Regions from separate parts of the Homo sapiens genome. Here region 1 is linked to region 2. The links come from fine-mapping of genetic effects on gene expression. A gene starts in region 2. The other region holds a variant in brackets. All regions are shown on one strand. Distances are between the middles of the regions. Region 1 has its middle 38 kb from the start of PEX5L. Region 2 holds the start of PEX5L (peroxisomal biogenesis factor 5 like).

The links. PIP is the estimated chance that this variant, and not a neighbour inherited with it, causes the effect.
Region 1: its variant is fine-mapped to the expression of PEX5L in spinal cord (GTEx, PIP 0.97).

The regions. Positions count from the first base shown.
Region 1 is chr3:180,070,015-180,080,820 of GRCh38, reverse strand. No RefSeq gene overlaps it. Among named protein-coding and RNA genes, the nearest start is that of PEX5L, 38 kb to the right of the region's middle. RefSeq lists enhancers at 1,620-2,144, 6,821-7,486. The variant T/C (reference allele first, on the strand shown) is at 4,985.
Region 2 is chr3:180,031,373-180,042,178 of GRCh38, reverse strand. It overlaps PEX5L (peroxisomal biogenesis factor 5 like), which reads left to right and starts at 5,242. Exons shown (of 15, transcript NM_016559.3): 1 at 5,242-5,600. The coding sequence starts at 5,580. RefSeq lists a silencer at 5,127-5,176.

The DNA of each region.
Region 1 (10,806 bases), 39 kb before region 2:
AGGAGTTGGGTGTTTTTTCAACTATTGAATTTTCTGCATAGATGATCATGAAAATTGTGAACAAACAGCTTCATTTTTTCCTTCCCAATCTGTATACCTTTTTTTCTGTTTCCTGTCTTATTGCATTAGCTAAAACTTCCAGTATGATACTAAAATCGCAGTGGTAAAAGGGGATGTTGTTCCTTGGTGGGAAAGCTTTGAGTGTCTCAGCATTATGATATTTGTTATAGATTTTTTATAGCTATTTTTAATCAAGTTGAAAATGTTCTCCAATATTCCTAGTTTATTAAGATATTCATATTTGTTCTTTTTAAACGATGTTTACGTTTCAGTTTGGGAAGTTTTTATTAACATATCTCAAGTTTATTTATTCTTGCCTTGGCAATGTCTAGTCTGCTGATAAGCTCATTAATGGCATTCTTTATTTCTTTTACAAGATTTTAGTTCTTCGCATTTCTTTTAATTCCCAAAGTTTCCATCTCTTTGCTTATATTCTTCACCTGTTCTTGTATGTTGTCAACTTTTTCTTCAAGTTCTTTAATATATTAATCATAGTTATTTTAAATTCACCATCTGATAATTCCAAAATCTGTGCTATATCTAAGTCTATTTCTGATGCTTACTTTGTCTCTTCAGACTATATTTTTTCTTGGCTTTGAGCATGCCTTGTAACTTTTTGTTGAAAGCCAGACATAATGTATTGGGTAATAGGAACAGGGGTGATTAGGCTTTTGGTGTGAGGTTTTATGGTAATCTAACTAGGCACTCCACTGTATTTAATGTTTATTTACTGTGGCTGTAGATACCAGAGATTTTAGTTGCCTCTAGTTTTTGTGTGTGTGTTTTATTCCCCTCTTGTCTTTGTGCTTACCTAAGGATTCCTTCTTAAGTTGAGTTTGTGTATTGTACCTCTCTTCATTGTAATCCACTGATACTATACTGCAGCTTTGCTGATGTGATAGTGATATGGGTTCGCTCTGTGTTCCCACCCAAATCTCATGTTGAATTGTAATTTCCCATGTTGAAGGAGGGGCCTGGTGGGAGATGATAGAATTATGAGGGTAAACTTCTCCCTTGCTGTTTTCATGATAGAATTCTCACAAGATATGGTTGTTTTAAAGTGTGTAGCACTTTCCTCTTCATGCTCTCTCTCTTTTCTGCCACCATGTGAAGACATACTTGCTTCCCCTCCACCCTTCCACCATGATTCTAAGTTTCCTGAGGCCTCCCAGCCATGCTTCCAGTACAGCATGTGGAAGTGTGAGTCAAACCTCTTTTCTTTATAAATTACCCAGTCTCAGGTACTTCTTTATAGCAGTGTGAGAATGAACTAATACAGAAAATTGGTATAAGAGAAGTGGGGCATTGCTATAAAGATACCTGAAAATGTGAAATCAACTTTGGAACTGGGTAATAGGCAGAGGCTGGAACAGTTTGGAGGGGTCAGAAGAAGACAGGAAGATGTGGGAAAGTTTGGAACTTCCCAGAGACGTGTTGAATGATTGTGACCAAAATGTTGATAGTGATATGAACACTGAAGTCCAGGCCGGGTGGTATCAGATGGAGATGAAAAACTTATTGGGAACTAGAGCAAAGGTCACACTTGCTATGCTTTAGCAAAGAGACTGACAGTATTGTGCCCCTGCTCCAGGGATCTCTAAAATTTTGAACACAAGAGAGATGATTTAGGGTACCTGGCAGAAGAAATTTCTAAGTAGCAAAGCATTCAAGATGTGGCCTGGTTGCTCTAAAAGCCTAGCTCATTTGCATAAGCAAAGAGAACTTATATTTAAAATGGAAGCAGAATATAAAAGTTTGGAAAATTTGCTGCCTGGCCATGTGGTAGAAAAGAAAAACCCATTTCCTGGGGAGAAAGTCAAGCTTGCTGAAGAAATTTGCATAAATAAAGAGGAGCCAAATGTTAATAGTGAAGACAATGGGGAAAATGTCTCCAGGGCATTTCAGAGACCTTCACAGCAGCCCCTCCCATCACAGGCCTAGAGGCCTAGGAGGGAAAATATGGTTTCACGGGCCAGGCCCAGGACTCAGCTGCTCTGCACAGCCTCAGGACATGGTGTCCTGCATCTCAGCTGCTCCAGCTCCAGCCATGGCTAAAAGATGCCAAGGTACAGCTCAGGCCATGACTTCAGAGGGTGAAAGCCCCAAGCCTTGGCAGCTTCCACGTGGTGCTGGGCCTGCAGGTGTGCAAAAGGCAAGAGGTGATGTGTGGGAACCTCTGCCTAGATTTCAGAGGATGTATGGAAATGCCTAGATGTACAGGCAGAAGTCTGCTGCAGGGGCAGAGCCCTTGTGGAAAACCTCTTCTAGGGCACTGCAGAGGGGAAATAGAGGGTTGAAGCCCCCACACAATTTCCCACTGGGGCCTGCCTAGTGGAGCTATGAGAAGAGGGCTAGCATCCTTCAGATCCCAGAATAGTAGATCCACTGACATCTTGCAATGTGCACCTGAAAAAGCTGCAGGCACTCAACACCAGCCCATGAAAGCAGTCACGAAGGCTGTACCCTGCAGAGCTGCAGGGGTGAAGCTGCCCACCCTTTGTGTCAATGTGACTTGGATGTGAGACATGGAGTCAAAGGAGATTATTTTGGAGCTCTAAGATTTAATAACTGCCCTGCCAGGTTTCAGACTTGCATGGCACCTGTAGCCTCTTTGTTTTGGCCAATTTCTCCCTTTTGGTCTTACCTAGTGCCTATACCCTCATTGTATCTTGGAAGTAACCAACTTGTTTTTGATTTTACAGATTCATTGGCAGAAGGGACTTGCCTTGTCTCAAATGAGACTTTGGACTTGGACTTTTGAGTTAATGATAGAACAACTTAAGACTTTAGGAGACTGTTGGGAAGGCATGATTGTGTTTTGAAATGTGAGAGGTACATGAGATTTGGGAGGGGCCGGGGTGGAATGATATGGTTTGGCTCTGTGACCCCACCCAAATCTTATGTCAAATTGTAATTCCTAGTGTTGAAGGAGGGGGCTGGTGGGAGGTGATAGAATCATGGGGGCGGAATTCCCCCTTGGAGTTCTCAAAATAGAGTTCTTATGAGATCTGGTTGTTTGAAAGTGTGTAGCACTTGCCCCTTTGCTCTCTTGGTCTCTGTCTCTCTCTGTCTCTCTCTGTCTCTCTCTCTCTCTCTCTCTCCTGCCACCATGTGAAGACATGCTTGCTTTGCCTCCACCCTTCCACCATGATTGTAAGTTTCCTGAGGCCTCTCAGCCATGCTTCCTGTACAGCCTGTAGAAGTGTAAGTCAATTAAACTTCTGTTCTTTATAAATTACCCAGTCTCAGGTACTTCTTTATAGCAATGTGAGAATAGACTAATACAGATAGTAAAGTGTTATTGATGAGAAGCTTTCTATAATCTTATGATAAGATCTCATTTTTGGTGTTCAGCTTGGGTTCCTGGGCTGTGACCTTCAGCAGTACAGTTGGCCCTCTGTAGTCACAGGTTCTGTATCTGTAGAGTCAACCAATTTTCAATTGAAATATTCAAAATAATTTAAAATAATACAAATTTATAAACAAGCCAGATGCAGTGGCATATGACTACAGTTCCAGCTACTCAGGACCCAAAGGCAGGAGGAAAACTTGAGCCCAGGAGTCCAAGGCTAACCTAGGCAACATAGCAAGATTTATCTCAAGGAGAAATACAGTATAACAACTATATTTACGTAGCATTTACATTGTGTTCAGTATTGTAAGTAATCTAGAAATGATTTAAAATATACAGGAAGAAGTACGTAGGTTATATGCAAATACCATACAATTTTATATTTTGAAGAACTCAAGTGTCCCTGGATTTTGGTATCCACAGGTGAAAAGGTTCTAGGAACTAATCACCTGTTAATACTGAATGAGAGCTGTCTTTTCTTGGTGTTAAGTTTTCTCAGGGACTAGTCTTTTTTCTTCCCCCTTGTCCTCTTATCTGTAGCAGGGAGGATAGAGAGGGCTAGATCTGGCCAATTGCCCCTCCCCTACATCAGGTAAGACTCTGGTAATGTAGTTCCCCTTGCATGGCAGGATATTTTTTTCTTTTCATAATTTTTTATTTTTGTAAATACGTAGTAGGTATATATATTTATGGGATACATGAGATGGTTGATACAGTCATGTAATGAGTAATAATCACATCATGGAGAATGGGGTATCCACCTTCTCAAGCATTTATCCTTTGGGTTACAAACAATCCAATTATACTCTTTTAGTTATTTTTAAATGTACAATGAAATTATTATTGACTATAGTCACCCTGTTGTGCTATCAAATAGTAGGTTTTATTTATTCTTTCTAACTATATTTTTGTATTCATTAACCATCACCACCTCCCCCCACACCCCCCGACTATCCTTCCCAGGCTCTAGGAACAAACCTCCTAATGTCTGTCTTCATAATTCCAATCATTTTTATCTTTAGATCCCACAAATAGGTAAGAATATGTGATGTTTGTCTTTATGTGCCTGGCTTATTTCACTTAACACAATAACCTTCAGTTCCATTCATATTGTTGCAAATGACAGGATCTTATTCTTTTTGTGGCTGAATAGTATTCCATTGTGTATATGTATCAGATTTTCTTTATCCATTCATCTGTTGATGGACACTTAGATTATTTCCAAATCTGGGCTGTTGTGAACAGTGCTGTAACAAACATTAGAGTGCAGATATCCCTTCAATATACTGATTTCCTTTCTTTTAGATATATACTCAATAATGAGATGGTTGGATCATATGGATCTATTTTTATTTTTATTTTTTGAGGAATCTCCAAACTGTTATCCATAGTGGTTGCACTAATTTACATTCCCACCAACAGTGTGCAAGGGCTCCCTTTTCTCCACATCCTCATCAGCATTGGTAATTGGCTGTCTCTGGATATAAGCCATTATAACTTGATAATATCTCATTGTGGTTTTGACTTGTATTTCTCTGATGATCAGTAATGTTGGGAACTTTTTCATATATC[T/C]GTTTGCCATTTGTATGCCTTCTTTGGAGAAATGTCTATCTAAATCTTTTGTCCGTTTTTTGATTAGATTATCAGTTTTTTTTCTATAGAGTTATTTGAACTCCTTACATATTCTGGTTATTGATCCTTTGTCAGAAGGGTAGTTTGCAAATATTTTCTCTCATTTTGTGGGTTGTCTCTTCACTTTGTTGATTGTTTCCTTTACTGTGCAGAAGCTTTTCCACTTGATGTGATCCCATTTGTCCAGTTTTGCTTTGGTAGCCTGTGCTTGTGAGGTATAACTCAAGAAATCTTTGTTCAGACCAACGTACTGAAGATTTCTGCCAGTGATTTCTTATAGTAGTTTCATAGTTTGAGGTATTAGATTTAAGTCTTTAATCTATTTTCATTTGATTTTTGTATAGAGTGAGAGATGGGGGTCTAGGTTCATTATTCTGCATATCCTTTTCTTTCTTTGTTTCTTTTTTTTTTTTTTTTTGAGGTGGAGTCTCGCTCCGTCCCTCGGGCTGGAGTGCAGTGGTGCAATCTTGGCTCACTGCAAGCTCCGCCTCCTGGGTTTACGCCATTCTCCTGCCTCAGCCTCCCGGGTAGCTGGGACTACAGGCGCCTGCCACCACGCCCACGCCCAGCTAGTTTTTTTTGTATTTTTAGTAGAGACGGGGTTTCACGGTGTTAGCTAGGATGGTCTCGATCTCCTGACCTCGTGATCTGCCCGTCTCGACCTCCCAAAGTGCTGGGATCCTTTTCTTTCTGATTGAAGTATTCCTTTTAGCATTTCTTGTAGGATAGGTCTAGTGTTGATGAAATCCCTCAGCATTTTTTTTTTTTTTTTTTTTTGTCTGGGAAAGTATTTTTTCTTCATGTTTGAAGAGCATTTCTGCTGAATATACTATTGTAGGGTAAATTATTTTTTTCCTCCAGTGCTTTAAATATGTCATGCCACTCTCTTCTGGCCTGTAAGGTTTCCACTGAAAAGTCTGCTGTTTACATGTATTGGAGCTCCATTCACATGTTATTTGTTTTCTCTTGCTGCTGTTAGGTTTCTTTTTTTATCCTTGATCTTTAGGAGTTTGATTATTAAATGTCTTGAAGTAGTCTTGTTCTGAGATGGCTCACTGTTCTGAGCCATCTGAAGCTGGGAGTGAAGTGACACAAGCACCCCAAGACCACCACCACTATAACTGTACTGGGTCAGACCTGAAGCCAGCAGAGTACTGGGTCTCACCCAAGGCCTGCTGTAACCATCCCCTGGCTACTGCCTGTGTTTGCTCAAGGCCCTGGGCCTCTAAAATCAGCAGGTAGTAAAGCCAGCCAGCCCTATGTCCTTCCTTTCAGGGCAATGTGTTCCTCCAGGCTCCAGGCAGATCCAGAGGTGCTGTCAGGGAGCCAGGAACTAGCATCAAAAACCTTAGAAGTCTACCTGGTGTTCTATTGTACTGCGGCTAAGCTGGCATTCAAACCACAAAATGCAGTCTTTCTCACTATTCCCTCCCCTTTCCAAAGGCAGAGGAACCTCATTACATAGCCGCTGCCACCACAGGCTCATTGGAAATACTGCCAGACTTCCGCCAATGTTCCCTTAAGGCCCATGGGCTCTTCAGTCAGCTTGCGGCAAATGCTGCTTGGCCTGGGACCCACCCTTCCGGGCAATACACTCCCCTCTGGCCCAGGGCAGGTATATAAATGCCATCCAAGGCCAAATATTGGAATCAGGGACCCCAAGAGCCCACTTGGTACTCTACATCCTTGTGGCCGAGGTGGTACCTAAGGTGTAAGACAAAGTCCTCTTTACTTTTCTTTCTGCTTTCTCAAGCAGAAGGGGGCTTGCCCTGTAGCTACCACAGCTTGGAATGTGCATAGTCTCACCTGAAGCCAGCAAGTCTGAGTCTTATCCAAGGCATTTGATGTGGGTATCACTGCTAATTATTCCAGGCCCAAGAGCTCTTCAGTTAGCAGGTAATTAATTCTGCAAGAACTAGATCCTTCAAAGCAGTATGTTCCCTTCTGGCCCAGAATGTGTCTGGAAAAGTTGTCTGGGAGTTAAAGCCTCATGTCTTTGACTCATCCCCTAACATGCTGTGACTCAGCTGGTATCCAAGATGGAAGAACAAGTTCTTCCCACTCTTCCCTCTCCTCCCCTCAAGCAGAAGGAAGAATTCTCTTTTGGAGCCACTGGCTATGCAGCCTGAGGTTAGGGGAGGGATGATGCCAGCACTCCCTTAGCCACTCCAACTGGTGTTTCAGTAGGTCATATGTCCCCACCAGTCCACTATCTCTGGGCCCAGTTCAGAACTAGGACTCACGTAAGAGTTGCAGTCCTTGTGGCCTGGACTGCCTTTCAAGTTCATTTTGGGCCCCATAGCACTTTAGCCCATGGTGGCGAGGCTTGTGGGAACTCAAGTTCCAACAGCTGAATGGGCAGTTCCCCTCTGGCTTGGGCTGGTTTAAATGCTTCCTCCGTGGGCAGGTGTTAGCTGAATTTGTTCCAGTTTTTCCTTCTGCTATAACAAGACAGTACTGAGTTCAATGTCTCACAATTGCTTTGCTCTCCCTCCCCCAGCACCCAGAAATGCTGTCCATACCACGCCACCACTGCTAGGATGTGGGGGGCAGTGTCATCAGCAATTTAAGACTGTTAATGCTACCTCTTCAGTGCCTCTTTCAGCAATATCAAGTTAAAACCAGGTACTTTGAGTGGTCACCGAGTTTTTTTTTCTTATGAGGGTGCTTTTTTGTGTGTGAACAGTTCTTAAATTGTGTCTTTGTGATGAGTGGGGGATGATTGCTGGAGCCCTTCTATTCCACCATATTGCTCCACCTCCTCCCCTGGGAGGGTAGGCTTTTGTTATGGAGGAATTCTGAGTATATTCAAAATGGTTACTCTTCCCCTCCCTCTTCTCCAAATACAGATAGAAATTTTTCTCTGATCCTCAAGAAAAGAACCTGGTGAAGCTCCAGGAGGTAAATCTGCAAAGTATTGGCTTCCATAGGGACTAGACCTTTAAGAGTTTAAACCTCAAGCTAGTACACTCAGCTTCCAGAAATTCCTCAAAATTACCATACAAGTGTTTCTACCCATTTATTGTTCTGGTGGCTTCTGCTTCAGGTAAACTGATCTTGGCTCTGATTCTTTGTATTTGCCAGTCTTTCCAGATTTAGAGGGCAGTGGGGAGGTAGTTTGCCCTGTAACCTTACTTCTTTGATGGACTTAAGAAATGTCATTGATTTTCAGTTTGTTCAATGTTTTTACCATTTTGAGTGTGGGAGTGATGACTTCCAAGCTTTTTTCATGTCACAGCTAAAAAAAAATATTTTAACAGCTTTATTGAGTTACATTTTACATATTATAAAATTCATCTATTTTAAGTGTCCAATTTGATGATTTTTGGCAACTTTACTGAGTAGTGCTAACATCACCATAATTAGTTTTAGAGTATTTTTATCCCAAAAGGAAGAGAGTGTGTTTTTGATATCTCCTACCCCCCTCACTGAAACCCTCCCACATGTCCAGGCCTAAGTGTCTTTGCTAATAAACTCTTCCCCCAGAGTTTTATTCTATCTTTTAAAATACCGTCTGCTAGATCTCTCCTAATTCTCAACCTTGTTTACCTCAAAGATTGGGTTTAGAGTTAGAAGACCGCACACTGCCACTTACTGTTTTTATCACATTAGGTAATTCACTTCAATGTTGGAGATTTGCTTGAGGAAAGCAAGGAAGAATAGTTTATCTTGCAACTAGCAATCAGTTCCCTGCAACTAGCAAAATACTGGGCACATAGGCAGTGATCAATAAATATTTGTGAATGAATGAATCTGGAAGATTCATGAAATATTAATAATGGGGTGTATGCAATCAAGGAGTTCGTGGACCTATGTATATAAATCTAAGAGGTAAGGAATGTCCTTCCTAACTCAGGATTTTTATAAGCCAGATGTTATGTTATTAAGAGCCTTTTCAGTGATATTCTTCCTCTTTTAATAAGTACGGAGGTATGCAGTAATGATTGACATCCCCTCATACTCTTTGTTTTTAAAATCTTTTGGCTATTCTTGGCTCTTCTATCTTCTCCATATTTATTTTAGAAACTGCTCTAGAAGCTCTGTGAAAAATCATACCATTTTATTCAAGGTAATGATCCCAGTCTTTGCTCATACTTATACTGGCTGTTATAACTCTACATTTATCCACAAACTCTAATACAGTAGTTCTGAGGTCTTACTTCTTCATTGTATCTTAGTTGGGATTAACTAAAGATTCTGGACCAGAAATGTTCAACTTGCCTAGACAAACCCAATGAAATAAAGAGATATTTGGGCAACTATATTTTACTATAGAGCCTTTCCCAAGTTTTATTTTTTGGAATTCTTCCCATATTATCCTTTTTGAGGGGAAGAGTGCATTTGATTCTAGTTATTAGTGTGATTTCCTATTATACTACAGAACTAAATTCATACAAGCACTGGTAAAAGGTAGATTCCACACTACTTAGAGGCTCAAGGACTAAAAGGTGTTAGTTCCTCCAAATCTAAATCCTGGGATCTTACCACATCTAACTGATCATGAAACAGAAGGAAGTTGAAGGGGTAAAGGTCCAGCTTACCTTATCCAAATAACTAAATGTATGGAAGAGACAGAAAGAAATGTTAGAGTTAATTTGCCTTGGCTAGTTTCGAAGAGCCAAACTCTGTTTTGACCTCGTTTTCACTTTAAAGTAGGAAACAGGAAGTAGAATGCAGGTTCATTTCTTAAAAGACCACCATGAAGCAAGTTGCCACTCTGCATCTTTTAGAGGGCAAGCAAGTAAGTGAGTGAAGAAAAGGGTGGAAAGCGGGGGCAGATCTGATGTGGAAAGAAGGGAGCTAAATATTTCCCTCCCTCCTACCCTGGATATTGAAACTTACTTTGATTGACAGGTTGTCATTCATGGCTCAAGCATAATTTCCCCTTGAACATGAATTCAATTTAATAAGTCCTTTGTTGTTCAAATAGTCTTTCTGTATATAACCTTTCTTTAGACCAACTTCTATAACATTTCCACAGACCCGGCTTATGTCCTTACTCAGCCACGCAGCTGCTGCTACCATCTAGAGTCTCAATACATTGGATTTATACTTAATCATCTTTTTACTCACTCATCCAAAAATATATATTATCTTTAATACAAATATTATAAAACAAAATTAAATATATTTTACTAGTAGGTGGCTAATAGATATTTATCAAATGAATGAATAAATACATAAACGAATCATTGCTAGCTTAAAGTATTTAGCTTGATGCACTGACTAATACTTTGTTGTGTATTTATATGTCTGAACAAATCATTTTTTTCTCCCTTGCCCCAATTCACACCTGGTAAGAAGTAATAGGGGGACAGGGCAAAAGACAGATACAATTAGGGATGTAAGGAGCTGGGATCATAAGGAGAAATTTTCATTGCCTGCATGCTGAAATGCCAGGAACTTAAACCATGATGAGGTATTATCTCATGGATTTTACAATACCCTGATGAAATAGGTAGGGTATGATTATATTTATTTTCCAGAGGAGCTAAAACCAAGTGAAAGTGATGGACTTGCCCAAAGTCAAAGAGCCAGTAAGTGATACGGCCAAGTGGTGAATCTAATGCCACACAGCCAGACTTTAGCACACAGCCAGACTTCATTTTTCCCAGACTCTGCTCAGACTTTGAAACCAGGGCTCAATCCACAGAGTAAGTCCAGGTTGGCCCACAGAAATAAGCCAGAGAAAAGATGTTCTTTCATTCCTGGCTGCATTAGAGGTCATCTCTGAGGGCTTAGCTGAGCTATGGTGGTGGTAA
Region 2 (10,806 bases):
TGCCTACGTCTAATAGAGAGTTAAAAAGCACAGAAATAACTAAACAAAAGAAAAATTTTGGGGGCCTGGTGTAGTGGCTCACACCTGTAATTCCAGCACTTTGGGAGGATGAGTCACAAGGCTCCCTTGAGGCCAGGAATTCAAGACTACCCTGAGCAACATAAAAAGACCCTAACTCTACAAAAAAGGTTTTTAAAAAAATTAGCCAGGCATGGTGGTGCATGCCTGTAGTTTCAGCAACTCAGGAAGCTGAGGCAGGAAGATCACTTGAGCCAAGGAGTTTGAGGCTACAGTGAACTATGATCATGCCACCGCACTGCCGTCTAAACAATAGACGGCAGTTTGTTGTTTGTCTCCAAAACAACAAAAAAAGAAAAACTATAATTTAAAAAAATGTCATTTGGCGTATCATAAAGAAGTTCCCAGCAAAGAGAAGTATTCAGTTAGAGGATGAAGAAAGGCTTCAGGAAGGAAATGGAATTGGAAACCAAATTTGATAAATGAATGAGCTTTTATTCAAGAGGAGTGGGGAGAGAGAGTACATTCCAAGAAGAGGCAAGAGTATGAGTATAACTTGGGCTGACTTTGGGGAATAATTAAAAAGCAGGGTTATTGCAAAAGGTAGAGAACATACAGAACTGAAAAAAGACAGGGTCAGTCTATGGAAAGCCACTGTATTCATAAGTATTCTTTTGGTTGCAAGTGACCAAAAATCCAGTAAACCAGAAAAGAGATGGCACTAGCTGAAATAAAGATTACTTTAGACTAGCTTTTAAGTGTGGTTTATTTAGTGGCTCAAATTTTGTCTCCTGGAGCCTGCCTGGATTATTATTCCCCCAGGTTGGTTTTCTTTTCAGAGTTGGTGTGCTGGATTCTGGCAGTTCCAAGCTAACATCAGTAGAACATCCAGTCCAGAGGAAGAATCAATCTGCTCCCGAGTAGTCCTGGAGCTGAGTTCATTTCCCTGATTGACTGACGTGGGTAATATGCCCATCTCCAACTGTGACCAATGGGGACGGAATGCACTGGTTGGCTCAGCCTGGGTGCTATGTTGCAACCCCAAAGCCTGGTAGTAAAATGTTTCCTACCACACAAGTGGACCAGAGTGAGGAAGAGATGGTTATTCAAAGCAAAGAGCCTTGAGAAAAGAGGCTTCCTGCCACTAGAAGAGGATGTTGCTCTGGGCAGCAAACGATATTCCATGACTGTGAATAAAAAGCTGAAGTTTTGGGACATTAGTGGGCAATGGAAAGCCACTAAAGATTTCTGACCTGAGCAGCATTGTGATTAATGCTGACCTTTATAAAATTAATCTGGCTGCGATGTATATGACAGGTTGATGTAGGAGATGAACGGAGGTGATAAAACTAGCTTTAAGTGATAAGAGGTTTAGGGAATCTGGGCTAGGATGGCAGTGGCAACAGTAGAAAGGAGTAGTCAAAAGCAAGAAATATTTTTGTTCACAAATGTTTTCTCACCAGGAATAAGAAACTCTAGAAAGTACACTTAATATTAAAAGCAATATTGGATCACTGAAAAAACATTGTCCTAAAGAGTAAACAAATATAGTGTAATTTCTTAAATTGGTTTAATAGGAGGCCCAGCTCTGAAGCATCCAGCTTGTTTGTTCATTTGGAAGAACATTGCTGCCATCTCCTCGTCATCAGAGTCCACATACTCTTATTATTCATAATTCTTCCTGGCAGCCTGGGGTTCCCAAATTTTTTCCAGATCAAATGCCCTGAAACACCAGCTAATCTCATTCTATGTGTCGAAGAGACAAAAAGGGTAAGTGGGCAAACTTTAACAAAATGTTCCTCCTTCTGATTGAACAACAAATACCAATTAGTCATTTTAATTTTGGTCTACAATTATTTTGACTTTTGTTCTCTCCTGCACCATCTTTCAGCACCAGAGTTTGAATTCTACAGATTATGAAAGAATGATTGAATCATCAAAAGACTCTTATCTCTGATTTTTAAGTCCACAAGAACACTAACCTCATCATTTTTACTAAGTTTTTTCAAAGATTTAATAAATCCTGAATTTTCAATACCCATTTGAAATGCAGGAGGATTCGCTTACTAATAAGCAAAATTAAATTTTGTCAATACAAAATAGATTCTACTGCTACCTCTCAATTATTTAATTGTATTACAGTGATTAAAATTGCAGTGGTACTAAGCACATTTCTTGCTGTAAGAAAGCTGAATGTGCTATGATTTTATGCCAAGTCCACTGACCACTCAAAATACAGTGAGATTATTTTATAAATGGAGTGCAATATGCATTCTTCTTCTCTAGTGGTACTGAGGTTGCTCATGTGTTATCACTGCAAAAGGCAAGAGCTAGCTTTGCCACATATTTACATGAATAAATAAACCTTCTAGGCCACAGTGCTGGTCAAATTTTATGGTGCATACAAGCACCTGGGGATCTTGTTGAAACGCATATTCTAATTCAGTAGGTCAGAAATGGCACCCAAGAGTCTGCATTTCTTACAAGCTCCCAGGACATGCTGATGTTGCTGGTCCACACACCACGTTTTGAGTAACAAGGGTCTTCAAATTTAATTACAAAATAAATCTTTTGTAAAATATTTTTCTGGACCTAGCTTATTAGACATGCATTGTTTCTGAGGAAAATAAAGATAATTCAAATCTCATTCCTAGTCTAAGAAATAGTCTAGGAAAGTGAAAGTTAAGCTTAACCAATCAGAAACCACAAACTAACCTCTAACTATGGACTTTCCATTAGAATGATCCAAATAAATCCAGTATTCCTCTTTAACCAAATAATTTCTTTGCTCTGCTTCCACATTTACCCTATAAAATCTTTCCCTTTAACGACTTCCGACAGAGTCCCCAACTGCTTTCGGTCTGCTGCTGCCTGATGCATGAATGGCTATTTGCTCAAAAAACCCTTTAAAATTTTAATGTGCCTTAGTTTATCTTCTAACAGAAGGAATAAGTGTGAAGAGGAATTCTTCACAAAGGAAAGCTTTCACTCCTGAGATTTTGAGAATGTAGGCAGTAACGAAATCAGTGACTCAGGTTTAAGAAGAGAATATATTGAGTTCTAGCTTCAACACTAGGCAGTTGCCATTCTGATCCAAATGCTTTTATGGTTGTTGGCTCCTTGAACCTGCCGTTAGATAATAACAAGCATATAATGGATTGGAAAACTTTGACCCTATTGTTACTTCACAGATTTCTAGTACTTTTAAATCAAAGCACTATACTTTTCCCAGTTTTTATATAACATGATAGTATTATATGATAATTAGTACCATTTTAAAATCTGCAGTACTTGAGGTCTCAGAAAATCAGTCCTCATCTTTTCTGAACTGGGAAAAAAAAGTCTGTTTGCATATTCATATATCATGGTTGGTAATTTACAACTTCCTTTGCATACATTCAGTCCTCAGCAGCTCTGTGCAGCACACTAGGTAGATATTTGTCTTATTTCAAAATTGAGGAAATAGAGAGTTGGTACACTTGCCCAAGAGAGCATTGAGGTAGTGAGATGGAACTAGCACCTCTTGTTGCTGACTCCAAGTCCTGTGCTTTGTCCTATAAAGAACAATAAAATAAGAACTGGATGACATTTTACAGTTTACAGTGCTTATGAACATATCTCTATTTTCAGGGTAAAAAAAATAAGTTTTTTATACAGAGTTTAGACATGAAAAAACTGATGTCCAAAGTAGTAAAAGGAAATTGTCCAAGGGTAACTACTAGTGGAATCTAATAGGAATCCATGTCTCCTGCTTACAGGTCTTAGTCCTTTTGTGTTTGTTTGGTTGGTTGTTTTAGGACCTCAGATGCATTGAATTGGTTCATTTCACATCCTTTTGTTCATTTCACATTCTCCTCATTAGTCCATACATGGTTCTATTTTATTTAGTTACACAGTAATTTTTAATAGGATATTAGGTGTCCTATGAATCACTACCCGGCATAGAAGATAAGACATTAACATCTAAACTTCAAGTGAAATGCTTCCCCATCTATTTCCCTGCCTCCCTTCACCCAGGGTCACCAACACTCTGAACACTATATTCATTGTTCCACTGCTTTCCTTTTTATATTGTTGTATATGAATATATGAATACACATTGACATTTCTAGGGATTTTTTAAACTTTATAAAAAGCATATTATGCTATATGCAATATTTTGGGGATATCATGCTGTACATAATATGAGGGGCCTGTAGAATTGGAGATGTTTTTACCAACAAAATTAGGTAATCACAGTATACACCACCCCGTGGTGTGTGTGTATATATGAACATTTATTGTGTAGACACATCAAACTACCCAGTCTCAACTTGAGACATATTTAAATGCACTCTTCATATATGTGTGTATGTGTGTGTAAGTGTATAGTAGTAAAGGTCTATTCATTCAGCAAATATTTATTGTGTGCCTGCCATGTGTCAGGAAGTACTAAATACCTTACTGTGCACACACGTGCAAAACCAAGTGCAACACTCCACCCCCCTAAAAAAAAGTCCCTGATCTCATGGAAATAACATTGTACAGAGGGAGAGACAGACAGTACATAAAATAAATATGGAAAATATAAAGGATGTTAGGTGATGTTACGTGCTAGGGAAAAAAATAAAACATGCCAGATCCTCAGGGACTAGGGTTTGCCGTTTTAAATAGAATGCTCGGCGATGAACTGGGGATGAGGGGAGCGGGGAGTCTTTATTTAACGGGTGATACGGACGTAACTTTCGAGAGCTGAATCAGAACCGAAGTAAACTCTTCGGCAACCCCTGCACTCAGCCTATAATGTCTGTAGGATAACAGGCTCAGCCGCGGTGGATGGCCCCCGGAGAGACGATGCATGTCTTCCCGCCTTTCTTCCGGCCGGCCATCCTCTCCGCTAGAATCGCCCTGCCCGCCGACGCCGCACCTGAACGCCGCGCTGCTGCGGGCGTTGTACACCAGCGCGACCACCGCCTGCCGGCACCTCGCCTTGCCGCCGCGCGCGCGCAGCCCCGAGGACGCGCTCGGGGAGCGCGCACCGCCCGGGGCCGCCCTCGGGCCGCTCCCAGGCCCCTGGGAACGCGCGCGCGTGCCCGGTCCCGCGGCCTCTCGGCAGGCACGCGGCTGGGAGAACGGCGCGCGCCCCGCTCGGCAGCTGCGGCGGCGGCTGGTGTAGGCGCTCACGTCAGGGCTGGGAGGAGGGGGTTCGCAGCTCAGAGAGAGAGAGACATGAGGCAACCTGGCAGGAAGCGAGAAAGAGTTCGGCGAAGAAGGAGTGAGTTCTAGAGACGCCCCGCGAGCAGGACCCGCGCCTGCAGGAGAGCCTGGCCGACCCGGCTCCTCGCCTTCTCTGCGCGCTCTCCCGCGTCCGCTTTCAGCACCCCGAGCGGAGAACAGTTCCCGGCAGCCCGCAGCGCTGCCGAGTGGCCGCCGGCCGGCCGAGTACCCGGAGCTCCAGGGGGCTCAGGAGCACCCTCTGAGAACCCGCTGTGCACCCACCTTTTCCCCTCTTTTGGTGGGCAAGTAAGCACGGGGGAAAAGCATCCGGTGGCCTCAGGGAGCCCTGAAGAAACCGAAGCAGAATGTACCAGGGACACATGCAGGTAAGACATTTCTATAGGGCTGGAGAGAATTCTTGGGGGCTAATTTAAGAGCAAGGCGGTTCACCAAGTTTCTGTGGTCAAGTGCTGCCTTCGCACAGCTCAACAAGTGAAGTGATGCAACATGACCGTGACATTTCTGTCCGGTGCTGCCGGGAAAACTAGACCGGTTTCCGAAGGTGGGAGAAGGGGAGGGAAGACCTCAGAACTTCGATTGGGGAAGTTTGTTTTCTGTGCATTCCCTGAGCCTGTTTCTTTAAACAGGATCAAGGAATCGAAACAGAGGAAACCCTAGAGATGACCGTGTTTCCGTTGTAATCCTATTGATGCATCTCAGCATGTATGTCAACTGAAGGGCAAACAATAATAGGAAAGACAAAGCTTTTCCTTTACCATCTGAAAAGGTTGCTTGACTTAGAACACTCTGTCACTTTCGTTTCATTTTTTAAAGTGTTATATTTAAAAAACGATTTATAGTGTATTTTCCCCCTTCACATTATGGGACATTGCCATCTACTCCAATAGTCACAGGATGACTTGGGAGGATGAATTTCAAACACATGTCCAAGGAGCTCTAATGTTTTTCAGGGGAGGTGCTGCCTCCGGTTGTTATTAATATTCATCTGAGCTGAGCCGCTGCTTCTTTCCGATGCAAACACACTCTACTCTCTTGGGCAAGATTACTTTAACCTTGACTCCAGTTCTCATTCATACGGTTGGTTGGTTCTTATAAAGGCAGATATATGCTTTGGGAGAAAAATAAAATACTAACTCAGCTTTCTAAAGTATGAACTGGACTCTTTATCGCACCTAAATGGTTTAGTCATCAGGTTTGATGTTTGGGCTTCCTTTCCATTCCAAAGATGGTCAAATACAATCATTATGTGTGATGCCTTTATCCTGGTGTATAACATTTATGAATACTGAGGATTTTGCTTCTGTGTCTTTTAGAGCAATTGGAAATAGATAAATATGTTGTTATATTTATGACTTAGTACTACCCAGATTTAATTTCCATAACTTAGGGAAATTCTTTTGGACTATAATCCATTTTTAAATAAAACACAATATTTCATCATAGTCTCAATTTTTATAAGAATTCTCAATATACAGTGCCAGAATTCCAAAAGATTTCCCGTATGACTAACATCATCCTGTTTTGAAAATTATTAATGTGATTATATCACATTTGATAGACAAAAAGTAGTGAATGAAGTATATTTTTAAATATTATATATGATCAATGTGATCTGCATGTTTCTTATAAAAGCTACACCAATTGAAAAGTTAAGTAACATAGAAGAATTCAAATAATGACTGCTGAAAAAATTAACAAAGAATTATTACTATAGTTTTATGCTTCATCTTCACCCAAGAATGATACTTACAATTTTATATATTATCTGTTTTTTAAACAGTTTCTTCACAAGGGTAAAACAGGAAGATTTTAATAGAGTCAACCCTCAAAAAATTGTTCATTTACACAAAATTGACAATTGACCACTAAGGGGAAATTAACAAAAACTTTGCACAGTATTGTTTTGTTGCTTAAAAAATATGTTACTGTGAATGAAGAATCGAAGCAACAATATGGTAAATTCATGCACCCAAAAACAATTTTAACTCAATTTTCTCAATATCTCAAAGGAGAATGTTATTGAAACTTGAGTTGCCTGGAACAATGTCTGAGGGTTTAATTTCACTTTGAAAGAATAAACAAAATATAAGACTCTGCATATTCTCCCAACTTAATGTCTTTTGCTTGTGCACTGCTGTAACAGCAAATATGATGACTTGCAGTAAAACTCACAAATCTTTGCTGCCAAGCTTAAATTAAAACATTACTAAATAAAGACTGTAATCAATACATCCACCAAAATTTCAGAGCATAATACTTTTTTCCTACTTACTATTAACCATTAATGTTAAGCATAAAACTTCCGAGGCCTTAGTAGGTACGTTTAGTAGTTATTCAATAGTATGATGATCTGAATGGGCATCTGCTCCCCCCAACAAAAAAATACCTATGACAGATTGATTCATAATATACTTGTTGGCTTACATTTTAAACTCATATCTCTTCCCCCAAAGAATATTATTTAGCCTATGGACAAAATAACGTTTCCTTATCAGAGATACTATCATCTTCCTGTGTGTACCTGACTCTAATCACAGATAAGAAGAAACACATTCCAAACACTCCAAAATGTGTATGATTAAAATCTGAATCCATATTTGGTAAAGTGGACCAGGGATAAGCAGATTTACTAACATTTCTGCCAGCTTTGGAGTTAATTTGAAACATAATGTTACTTGACTGATACCTTAAAACAAGAGTGAAACAGAAATGTTTGCAATCTTTTGCTATGCATTCTAATTCTTCTCTTTTCTGTATCCAAGAGACTTTAAAATAAAGTGCTTTGTAAATTAGCAGTTTGAAGTAGGGGCAGGTGTTCTCAGGAAGACTTAAAAATAGTCTAATTTAAAACTCCTGTGGTGCCTTTGTTTTTGCAACTTAATGATTTTGCAGATAAAGTCTATTAATTCTCATACATATGGCTAATTCATCTGGTTTATGGTAGAATCTGAATTCATTTTAGAAACCGCAGACTTTTAAAAACACACATTTGGTTTGCTCTGCTAGTTCATTAGAAAATAAAAGTTGGCATCTATTACAGATAGAGCATAGAGTAACAGATATTTCTTGGTTTCATAGTAAAAGCCGCAGGTATATTTCTTAGGAGCAGGGTCCTGGAGCTATGTTTTTATCCAGCTGCCTTACCAATTATTTCCAAGGGGAGTTAGTCACCCCAGTAAATGAAGCAAAGGTTGCTTCTTTTGTGACTGTTTTAGATTTACTTATTTTTTTCTTTTGACCAAGGGCACTGATGATGATTGAATATACTTTAGCATCGGTTCTGACAAAACTCTGTTGCTCATTGAGGGCCTATGGTCTTAATTCCACCAATACCTCTGTATGTTCAGGGCTGAGGTGATTATTTGCCTATGTGCATTTGAGTTAACATTTCCAGTTAGAGGAAATTATTACATGTCTCTCAATGTTTTCTTAACCTAGCTGTTTTATTTCTGGGGTGGTATAAATACAGAGAAATATAATTTCAATTTTCTACTAAGATTTTTTGAATTGTTATTGAAGAATCCACAGCAATGGGTTTTTTAATAAAAGAAAGTTATTTCAGAAGGCAATCAAACAAAAAATCTATTTGTAATTGTAACTGATCTTTATTTTAGGCATTCAAAGCAGACTTTTTGACTTATTCAAGCTGTCTGGGGAATCATTCCACACCCTCTAGCTTCACAAGACATAAACTAAGGAAAATTTAAATGACAAAAATTGTAAGATTATTAACAGCCCAAAAAGTAGCCATTTGTTTTCCCCCAGGGGAGTTTTGCATTTGTTTTTCTATATGACTTTACTTAAGATTTTTCTTAAAATCTCTACAAAGGGGAATAGCTTAGGTAATTTAAGTTATGTTAGTACATTAGATCTCGCCCCTGGTGATTTATTTAGGTTCACTAGAAACAAAATACATAAGAAACCAATTGAAGGTAAGACTGTAGAACGTTGTTTTCAATACCCTAAACAGTAGGTTATCATAATTGAGGCCCTCAGCAAAACTGTAAAGCAGATGATATTTATCATGGGTACTTCCACCTCTCTAACAGATCCACTTTTTTCCCTCCTGGTACCACCTTTTTTAATTCTTGAGACAGGGTCTTTCTCTGTCCCCCAGGCTAGAGTGCAGTGGCCCAATCTCGGCTCACTGCTTGCTATGCCTCCCTGGCTCAAGCAATTCTCCCACCTCAGTCTCCCAAGTAGCTGGGACTACAGGTGCATGCCACCATGCCCAGATAATTTTTGTATTTTTTGTAGAGACAGGGTTTCACCATGTTGTCCAGGCTGGTCTTGAACTCCTGAGTTGAAGCGATCCACGCGCCTTTGCCTCCCACAGTGCTAGGATTACAGGCATGAACCGCAGCTCCCGGCTCACCCTTTTCCATCCTGTGTTCTTTCTTTCTTAACCCTTTGCTAAGGCATTAACTGCTAGCAAAGATATGACTAATAGCAATAAACCACCTGCACGCACACACATACACACATTTTCAGAGGCGAGTCTTTGAGATTAGTTTAGAGTTGGAACGGGGGTGGCATTTTCAGGAGAGTGAGCAGTGCTGGGGTTTGTTGTGTTGTTTTGGTCAGTGGTTGCTGCTGCCTTCCTCTCCCCCTTTGTTATCTCAGTTCAAGTGGCACCTGGTCTTCTTCCTCAAATGTCATCTTATAGGTAATGATGAGCATAAGTATGATGAAATATTAACTAGAACTCTGTTGAAGCAAATTCATGTACATTTAAGCTGTTGATCAAAATTATGACACAAGCTCCAGCAAGATTCTGAAGTGTCTTCCTGTATATTCACATGCAAATCATGTTTGGTATGGATGTAGTGTTGAGCTTTTAACACTTGAAAGTTATAATAGTTGTGGTATGCATTAGCAGAATACTTGATTAATCTGAAAATCTCATTCCCCAGCCATACTGGCCAATAGTTTATATACTTACTATAAGAAACACAATATAGTCTTTGTAGATTTTATTTGTGGTTTATAAATATTCCTCCTAAAAACATGTGTTTGAAAGTAAAAATTTCATCATATAAATGTTTTTATTATAAAACATTTTTTAAAGTAAAGAATAAGAAAAGGTTAAAACACAACTTGTTAACTCTACAATTTTGAATCTCTAGTATTACCACTGCCAATCCTGGAAACATTAAGATGTGATACACCATGTAGTCAAAACATCTGGCAGGCTGCTTTTTTACACTTTTCATTGAGATCACATGTTTCCAACATAAGCTAAAGCTGTTAAAAGGTTTTATATTTTAAAATTACCTTCTTGATACATTTATAGGATAACCAGTGTGCAATTCTAACGCTAAATGTAAAGGTAAACTCCAGCCTAGTGTGTCCTTATTAAGAAACCTAAATCCAATCTGAATGTTTGGGACATCTAAAAATATAATTTCAAATATGCTGACAGAGAAAACTAGTAACCAAGTTCCTGAAACATTTTTCACCTTTTTATAATTCAGAACATATAAAACACAAATCATCTTGAACTATTGCATGAATCCAAGGCCAGAGTGCTATGAAGTGGGGGTTATGTTTCTTTCAGTGACCTTTTCCTTA